Homo sapiens: one gene and its partner. The protein of the gene in region 2 purifies or fractionates together with the protein of the main gene of each other region. This does not show direct contact. Each region holds a gene or a part of one and is shown on either strand. Other genes may lie near its edges.

Region 1 (3,813 bases), on a different chromosome or scaffold from region 2:
TCACGCAGCCCGGCTGCCTCAGCCTCCATGGCTCGCACCCGGGACCCCAAGGCCAATTTCGCCCTGGTCTCCTCCTGCAGCAGCTCCTGTAGATGGAGGAGACGGCAATGTCAGGTGTGGCTGGGAGGACAAGGAGGGGAGGGTGACGGTGGAGCCGAAGGGCAGGCAGGGTCACCTGGGCATCGTGCAGCTGGGCTTCTGTGCTGCTCAGCTCCTTGCTAAGACGGATGGTTTTGGACTCAGCCTCGTTCAGCGCCCCAGACACATTCTCCAGTTCAGCCTGCAGGGAAGGGACGGGAATGAAGCCCTCCAATCGTGGCTTCCACCCAGTGACCCCATCTGCCTCAACTCTCTACCACACTGGCAGGAATGTGAAATGTTACAGCTGCCGTGGAAAACAGTCTGGCAGATCCACAGATGCTTAAACATAGGGTTCCCACATGACCCAACAATCCCGCTCCTAGGTGCATACCCAAAAGAAATGAACGCATAGGTCTATGCAGAAACTCGTACCGGAATGTTCTCAGTGGCATTACTCACCATCGCCAAGAGGCGGGAACAGCCCCAATGTCCATCAATAAACGAATGGATAAACAAATGTGGAATATCCATACAACGGGCATTATTCGGCAATAGAAAGGTATATGGATCTATTGCGTGCTGTTGTTTTTTGGGGTTTTTTTGAGACAGAGTTTCACTCTTGTTGCCCAGGCTAGAGCGCAATGGTGCAATCTCGGCTCACTGCAACCTCCGCCTCCCAGGTGCAAGTGATTCTCCTGCCTTAGCCTCCCAAGTAGCTAGGATTACAGGCATGCGCCACCACACCCGGCTAATTTTGTATTTTTAGTAGAGACGAAGTTTCACCATGTTGGTCAGGCAGCTGGTCTTGAACTCCTGACCTCAGGTGACCCACCCGCCTCCGCTGCCAAAGTGCTGGGATTACAGGCATGAGCCACTGCACCCAGCTGGTGTTTTAAAAATTAAAAAATAAAAAAGGAATTATGCTACGAGCTGCAACACAGATGAATCTTGAAACCGTTATGTTAAGTAAAAGAAGGCAGCCACAAAGGCCACCCATATATAGTAGGATTCCATTTATATAAGATCTCCAGAATGGGAGATCAGTAAAGACAGAAAGGAGATTAGTGGTTCCCTGGGTGGGGTGGGGGAGAAGTGGGGGATGATAGCTAAAGGGTATAGGATTTTCTTTTTGGGATAATGAAAATGGTCCAAAATTAGATTATGGTGATGGCCATACCACTCTGTGAATATACCAAAATCCATTGAATTGCACATCTTAAATGAGTGAATTATTATTATTATTATTGGAGATGGAGTTTCACTCTCGCTGCCCAGGCTGGAACGCAATGGCGCGGTCTCAGCTCATCACAACCTCTGCCTCCCGGGTTCAAGTGATTCTCCTGCCTCAGCCTCTCGAGTAGCTGGGATTACAGGCATGCGCCATCACGCCCGGCTAATTTTGTGTTTTTTTTTTTTTTTTTTTAGTAGAGACAGGGTTTCTCCATGTTGGTGAGGCCGGTCTCGAACTTCTGACTTCAGGTGATCTGCCCGCCTCGGCCTCCCAAAGTACTGGGTATTATTATTATTATTTTGAGACAGGATCTCACTTTGTTGCCCAGGCTAGAGTGCAGTGGCACAATCACAGCTCATTGCAGCCTCGACCTCCCAGGCTCAAGGGATCCTCCTTCCTCAGTCCCCTGAGTAGCTGGGACTACAGGCACATGCCAGCATACCTGGCTAATTAAAATTTTTTTTTTTCTGAAGATGGGGTCTCACTATGTTGCCCAGGCTGGTCTCGAACTCCTGGGCTCAAGCAATCCTCCTGCCTTGGCCTCCCAAGTGCTAGAATTACAGACATGAGCCACTGTGCCCAGACTTGTACATGATTATGTTGGAAGAGCCAAACGAGACAATTGGTTTGATATGGACCAAATAGAAGCCCAGAGAGGGCAGGCATGTCACCAAGGTCACACAGCAGAAACCTCTGCCCTGCCCACCCCACTTACCTGGGCTCGCTGCAGCTTCTCAGCAGCCTCCGCTCGTGCCCTCTCCCCATCACCAGCCCGGCCCTGCACCTCCTGCAGCTGTAACTCCAGGCGGCGCCTCCGCTGCTCACCCTCCTGACGTGCAGTCTGCAGGCTGCTCAGTTCTGCCCGCAGCTCGGACACCTCGGCCTCCAGGGCCAGCCGGGTCTTCTCCCATGCACCTTTGCCCTGGTGTGGGAAGGAGATGAGCAAAGATCTATGAGGCCTTTCCTGGACCAGGCCAGGCACACTCCCATCTCAGGGCCTTTGCACTGGCTGTTCCCTCTGCCTGGAACACACTTCTCCCAGTGAACAAATAGCTCACCCCTCACTCCCAATTTTTTTTTTTTTTTTGAGACAGTGCTTCAGTCTTGTTGCCCAAGCTGGAGTGCAAAGGCACGATCTCTGCTCACTGCAACCTCCGCCTCCCAGGTTCAAGTGATTCTCCTGTCTCAGCCTCCCAAGTAGCTAGGATTACAGGCGCCCACCACCACGCCCGGCTAATTTTTTGTGTTTTTAGTAGAGATGGGATTTTGCCATGTTGGCCAGGCTGGTCTTGAACTCCTGACCTCAGGTGATCCACCCACCTCAGCCTCCCACAGTGCTGGGATTACAGCCATGAGCCACCACGTCTGGCCCATTTTTGTTTGTTTGTTTGTTTTTTGAGACAGAGTCTTGCTCTGTCACCCAGGCTGGAGTGGAATGGTACAATCTTGACTCACTTCAACCTCTGCTTCTTGGGTTCAAGTGATTCTCCTGCCTCAGCCTCTCAAGTAGCTGGGACTATAGGCGTGTGTGCCACCACGCCCAGCTAGTTTTTGTATTTTTAGTAGAGATGGGGTTTCACCATGTTGCCCAGGCTGGTCTCGAACTCCTGGCCTCAAGTGATCTGCCTGCCTCAGCCTCCCAAAGTTACAGGCAAGAGCCACCATGCCCGGCCACTCCCTCAGTTTTTTACCCTGATGTCACCTTCTCGCAGAATACCTCCACAGCCTCTCTACTTAAAAACTCACCCGCCTTAGAATTCTGATCCCTTTTTCCTGTTCATTATGGCCCCATAGCACTTATCACCCCAATATAAACTGAAAGTGTTTATATTGTTTACCCTCTGCCTCTCTCACTAAAAGGAAAGCTCCACAAGGGAAGGCAGTGCTGGTTGTTGGGTTCATGGCTGGTTCCCCAGCAATGCTCCTGGAACATAGTCCACACCCCATTAATGCTTGCTGAATGAAAGATGCACATGAATGCGTGAGGAAAGGGGCCCAGGGAGATGAGCTAGCCTAGAACCAGCCAGCGGTACCTCCTCCAACCCCGCGTCCTGCCCTGCCCTCCCCGTGGCCCCCCTGCCCTGTCCCCCTGCCCCAACCCACCCTCCGGGCCTGCTCCAGCTGCTCCGCCAGCTCCCCCAGGGCCTGGCCGTGGCGCTGCCTCAGCTCCTGCACTGCCGCCTCGTGGATGCGAGTCTCCTCCTCCAGAGTCTTCTTCAGCTCCGTCACCTCCTGTTCCCTCTTGGACCTTTATTGGGGGAAAGGAGAGAGGATGGGAATTTCAGAGCAGAGGAAGGCAGGGGCTTTGGGGGAGCTGGTTGTTTCTCCTTTTCATGTTTCCTTAAAATATGAGGGCCTCATGTTATGCTCCTCAGGAGATCTGGGTGGTGATGCTGTGGAAGGAGTGTGGCTTTAAGGGTGAACTCCTATTCACCTTTCAAAACCCTTTTCCAAAAGGCCCTTCCTCAGGAAAGTCTTCCTGGATCTCCCATAGACTTGGT
Region 2 (3,813 bases):
TGGCTGAGGACCAGGCACCCTCACTGCCTAAGGCACAGGTCCTCTTGTAAAGATCCTGGCTTTCCTACGCCTTCCCACCTAGTTTCAGGCCATGCTGGTGGCTTCTGGCTCCTGGTCGTGCCCTCTGCATCCATTTGTTGGGCATCCACCCTTGATCCTTCTCTCACGCCCTCAGCCCCACCGATGGGAGCCACCACTCCATCCACATTATCCACAGGGCTGGCTGAGCTGACTTCCTCTGAGACAGGGCTGGCATCTGCCTCACTCTGTTCTGAGAAGGTGATCCAGGCTCCCAGGGAACACAGACACCTAAATCAGAGTCAGCCCTGGCCTGGCTTCGGACCTTTCTCACCCTGACAGTTGTAAACACACAGGAGGCCAGGGGAGGAGATGCTCAGATCATCTACCCTGGCCCTGCCTCTCAAGATACTCCCCTGAGCTACATCAGGAGCTGCTGTTTCTGAGCCATTTGCTCAGCAGCCCTTGGTCACTGGACAGCCTTGCTTAACTGGAAGATGCCTGATTTAAGAGCACACGTGCTCACTCTGACCTATATCCTGATCCCCTGGCCCTCCCCCTCCGCAGTGGCGCGCGTCACCACCAGCTCACAGGCTTGAGCTGTCATGAAATCCTGGGCAGAATCCAGTCCAGAGAAAGCGTGGAGAGGACAGTGGCCCAGAGCTGCTTTCAGGTGCTCCATGGACGGCCATCGTGATCAGGGACACTGCCTTCTCGCAGCGGGAATGCATTTCATTTGAGAGCATGGATTCTGGAGGCAGACACTGGATCCAAAGCCACCTCTACCACCTATTGGCTGTGGGACCCTGGACGAACTACTTTACCTCTGTGCCTCATTTATCTCAGCTGGGAAACAGGATGATAATAATAGCACAGGCTCAGCATCCCAAATCCAAAAATTCCCAAATCCCAAATCCTCCAGAATCTGAAACTTTCTGAGTCCTGACATGACACTCCAAGGAAATGCTCATTGCAACATTTTGGATTTCAGATTTTCAGATGTGGGATATTCAACTGGCAAGTATCATGCAAATATTCCAAAATCTGAAAACATCTGAACTCTGAAATGCTTCTGGTCACAAGCATTTTGGAAACAGGATGCTCAACCTGTATCCACGTGACAGGGCTGCTGTAAGTGTGGATACAGGCAATGCATGTAAAGCATCTGGAGCAGTGCCTGGCACACGTGGGGAGCCCGTCATATGCTGCCGCGGCTGCTGCTAATGACAACAGGGACAACTACGATGAGATTACAGAGGCAGGGGACGGGTGCAGCTCCACGGTTAACAATGCTACCAGGTGTCCCCAGCTCACAAAGCCTGTCCATGGTCCCATTTTCCACACATGGAACCTGGCCCAGAGAGCAACCGCCCACAGTCCCACTCCTAGGAAGCAGGGTAGCCAGGAACTGAATGCAGGTCTGTGAACCTAAAACGAATACTCTTTTAACCTCTGCCACTAAAATTGCATCCAATTTTCAAGGGGAAGGAGAAATATGGTTTCCCAGCACCTACTACGCCTTTGCACTGCAATTGTCAGCTGGACAAGAAAGAGCATCTGAATATCTGATTTAAAGGAAAAGGCTGCTTTCTCTTTGGGACTAATAACAACGAAGGCTTTTTTGGCTCTGCAAGTTTGCTGTCCTCTCGCCAGTGCTGTGGACTGGGGCTTTCTCAGAGTAGTGCTGCTTTCAGCGAAGCAGCTGTTTGGGGTGGCCCCTTTGTTTCTTATTACCTACGCTATGACCACAGCTCCACACTGACATGCGATGGCGGCATCAGTTGACATCTATTTTCTTGTTAACAGAACACAAGTGGCTCCTTATTAAGCGCCCCCAGAGAAGATTCTGCCATAAAAATTTCATAAAGCCCAAGCGCCTCCCGAAATGTAAACTGGCCCGCTCAACTTTCCCTTGGAAATCGCTGGTGAGATCTGCTTTGTCGGCCAGTGTGCGTGTTCCACCTATGGTCACTTTAGGCCGCTAAAAGCAAGAAACCAATCAAGCATCCCACTAGAGTCGACAAACCAAACCCTGTCTCATGTGCACCCCTTGGTCTGAGGATGGAAAAGCAGCTTCCCTTCACATTTACACAGTGACCTCGGTACGAGTCATAGGACAACGTTTTGAGGGACAGAAGGAAGTCTCTTTAGTTGCTCTTCCTTTTTTGCTAAGCCACTGAAGCTGGCTGTGGCTTAGATGACAGGAATGACTCTTACCTGTGCGGTGAAGAAGGCTGGGGTGAGGGATCCCGAGGGGAGGGCTGGGCTGTTGAGGGCGATGGAGCCGATGTCGGTGCCGGAGAGCACCAGCGGGGGCGCTGAGATTTCCAAGCCTTTGGGTTTTTTGGCCTTTGGGGGAAGAGATGGAGACTTGGTCTTGGAGCCCGATGACAGGTTCAAGGGCTCCAGGGAATCGGAGTCATGGCAGGCGGCCTCCAGGAAGAGGCTTCTGTGTTCAGAAGGGAGGGGTGAGTTGGGGGACAGGGACGGGGACCGAGATGAGAAGGGTGAGGCGGATGAAATACTGGCAGCGTTTGGCAACATTAAAGAGGAGATCTTGGCCGAGACGGACGAGGCCAGGAAGGCGGACGCCGCCGCAGCCTCTGACGTGGAAGGCAGGGACACCACCGGCCTGGTGACGTGCTTGTCGGTTTTATTGGTCACAAACCTGATCACAGTCCTGACTTCTTCCACGGGGGGGCTGTCTTCGGGCGGCTCCTCCAGCTTCTCCGTCTTGATGGCCTTGAAGGCGTCTGGTGGGTTCTGCAGGGAATTAATGGTGAAGGACGAGTACAGGCCTGAGTGGATGTATTCGTTGCGGCTCGTGCTTCTGAGGGCGGCCAGGCCGTGTTTGTGGGCCTCGCGGCCCTCCGGAGACGCCTTGCAGTCGCTGTCCTGCAGCAGAAGGCTCTCCCGGCTGATCTCCACCGCGTGAGGATCCATCTTCAGGATCTCCGGGAAAGAGACAAACTTGTACACAAACTTCTGCCCGATCACCTTCTTGATGATGTTCTGCAAATACAAAAGTAGACGTTGAAAATCTGAGTGCACCCGAGAAACCATGTAAGAGCTCATGATAATGGTAAATGTCGCTGGCAGAAGCACCAAAATGTTCCTGATTTACATTCTTGGCTAAGGAAAAGTGGAAGGAGGAATGAAGTTGGAAGTAGAATTAGATGTGCATTCCAGTTCTGCCATTACTAGATCTTTGTGATCTTTGGCAAATTAAGTGCCACTTTGAGTTTCCTCGTCTGTAAAGTAAGGAAGATGATGATGATGATGATGATTTCTTAGACAGGGTCTCACTCTGTCGCACAGGCTGGAGTGCAGTGGCACGAACATGGCTCACTGCAGCCTCAACCTCCTGGACTCAAGCAATCCTCCTGCCTCCACCTCCTGAGTGGCTGGGACTACAGGTACATGCCACCACACCCTGCTAATTTTTACATTTTTATTTTTTGTGGAGACAGCATCTCACTTGGTTGCTCAGGCTGGTCTCAAACTCCTGGACTCAAGCAATCCCCCAACCTTGGCCGAGTGAGGATTATTCTATGTAATAACATAGTAACAGCTGCCATTTATGAAGCCTTTACTATGTGGATGGGATTATTCATATCTTATCTCATACAATCTGAACAGCAATCCTAAAAGGAAGGTGTTGTGACTCCTATTTTAAAAATTTGGAAAATAAGCTTAGAGCACTTCCCTAACTCACATGACCACCTGCTAGGAAGTGAAGTGGTAGAGGCAGCATGTCCTGAACCATAACACAGTATTGTCTTACCTACCTCTGCG

What was found.
Region 1: the proteins of ELK3 (region 2) and MYH14 purify together in Homo sapiens (affinity purification with mass spectrometry; one large-scale study listed by BioGRID and IntAct). This does not show direct contact.

What each region holds. Positions count from the first base shown.
Region 1 is NC_000019.10:50,276,504-50,280,316, reverse strand, and holds part of MYH14 (myosin-14), read right to left. Parts: intron 3,561-3,813; coding exon 3,416-3,560; intron 2,235-3,415; coding exon 2,028-2,234; intron 281-2,027; coding exon 176-280; intron 87-175; coding exon 1-86. UniProt on the Homo sapiens protein: Cellular myosin that appears to play a role in cytokinesis, cell shape, and specialized functions such as secretion and capping.
Region 2 is NC_000012.12:96,246,157-96,249,969, reverse strand, and holds part of ELK3 (ETS domain-containing protein Elk-3), read right to left. Parts: intron 3,031-3,813; coding exon 2,236-3,030; intron 1-2,235. UniProt on the Homo sapiens protein: May be a negative regulator of transcription, but can activate transcription when coexpressed with Ras, Src or Mos. Forms a ternary complex with the serum response factor and the ETS and SRF motifs of the Fos serum response element.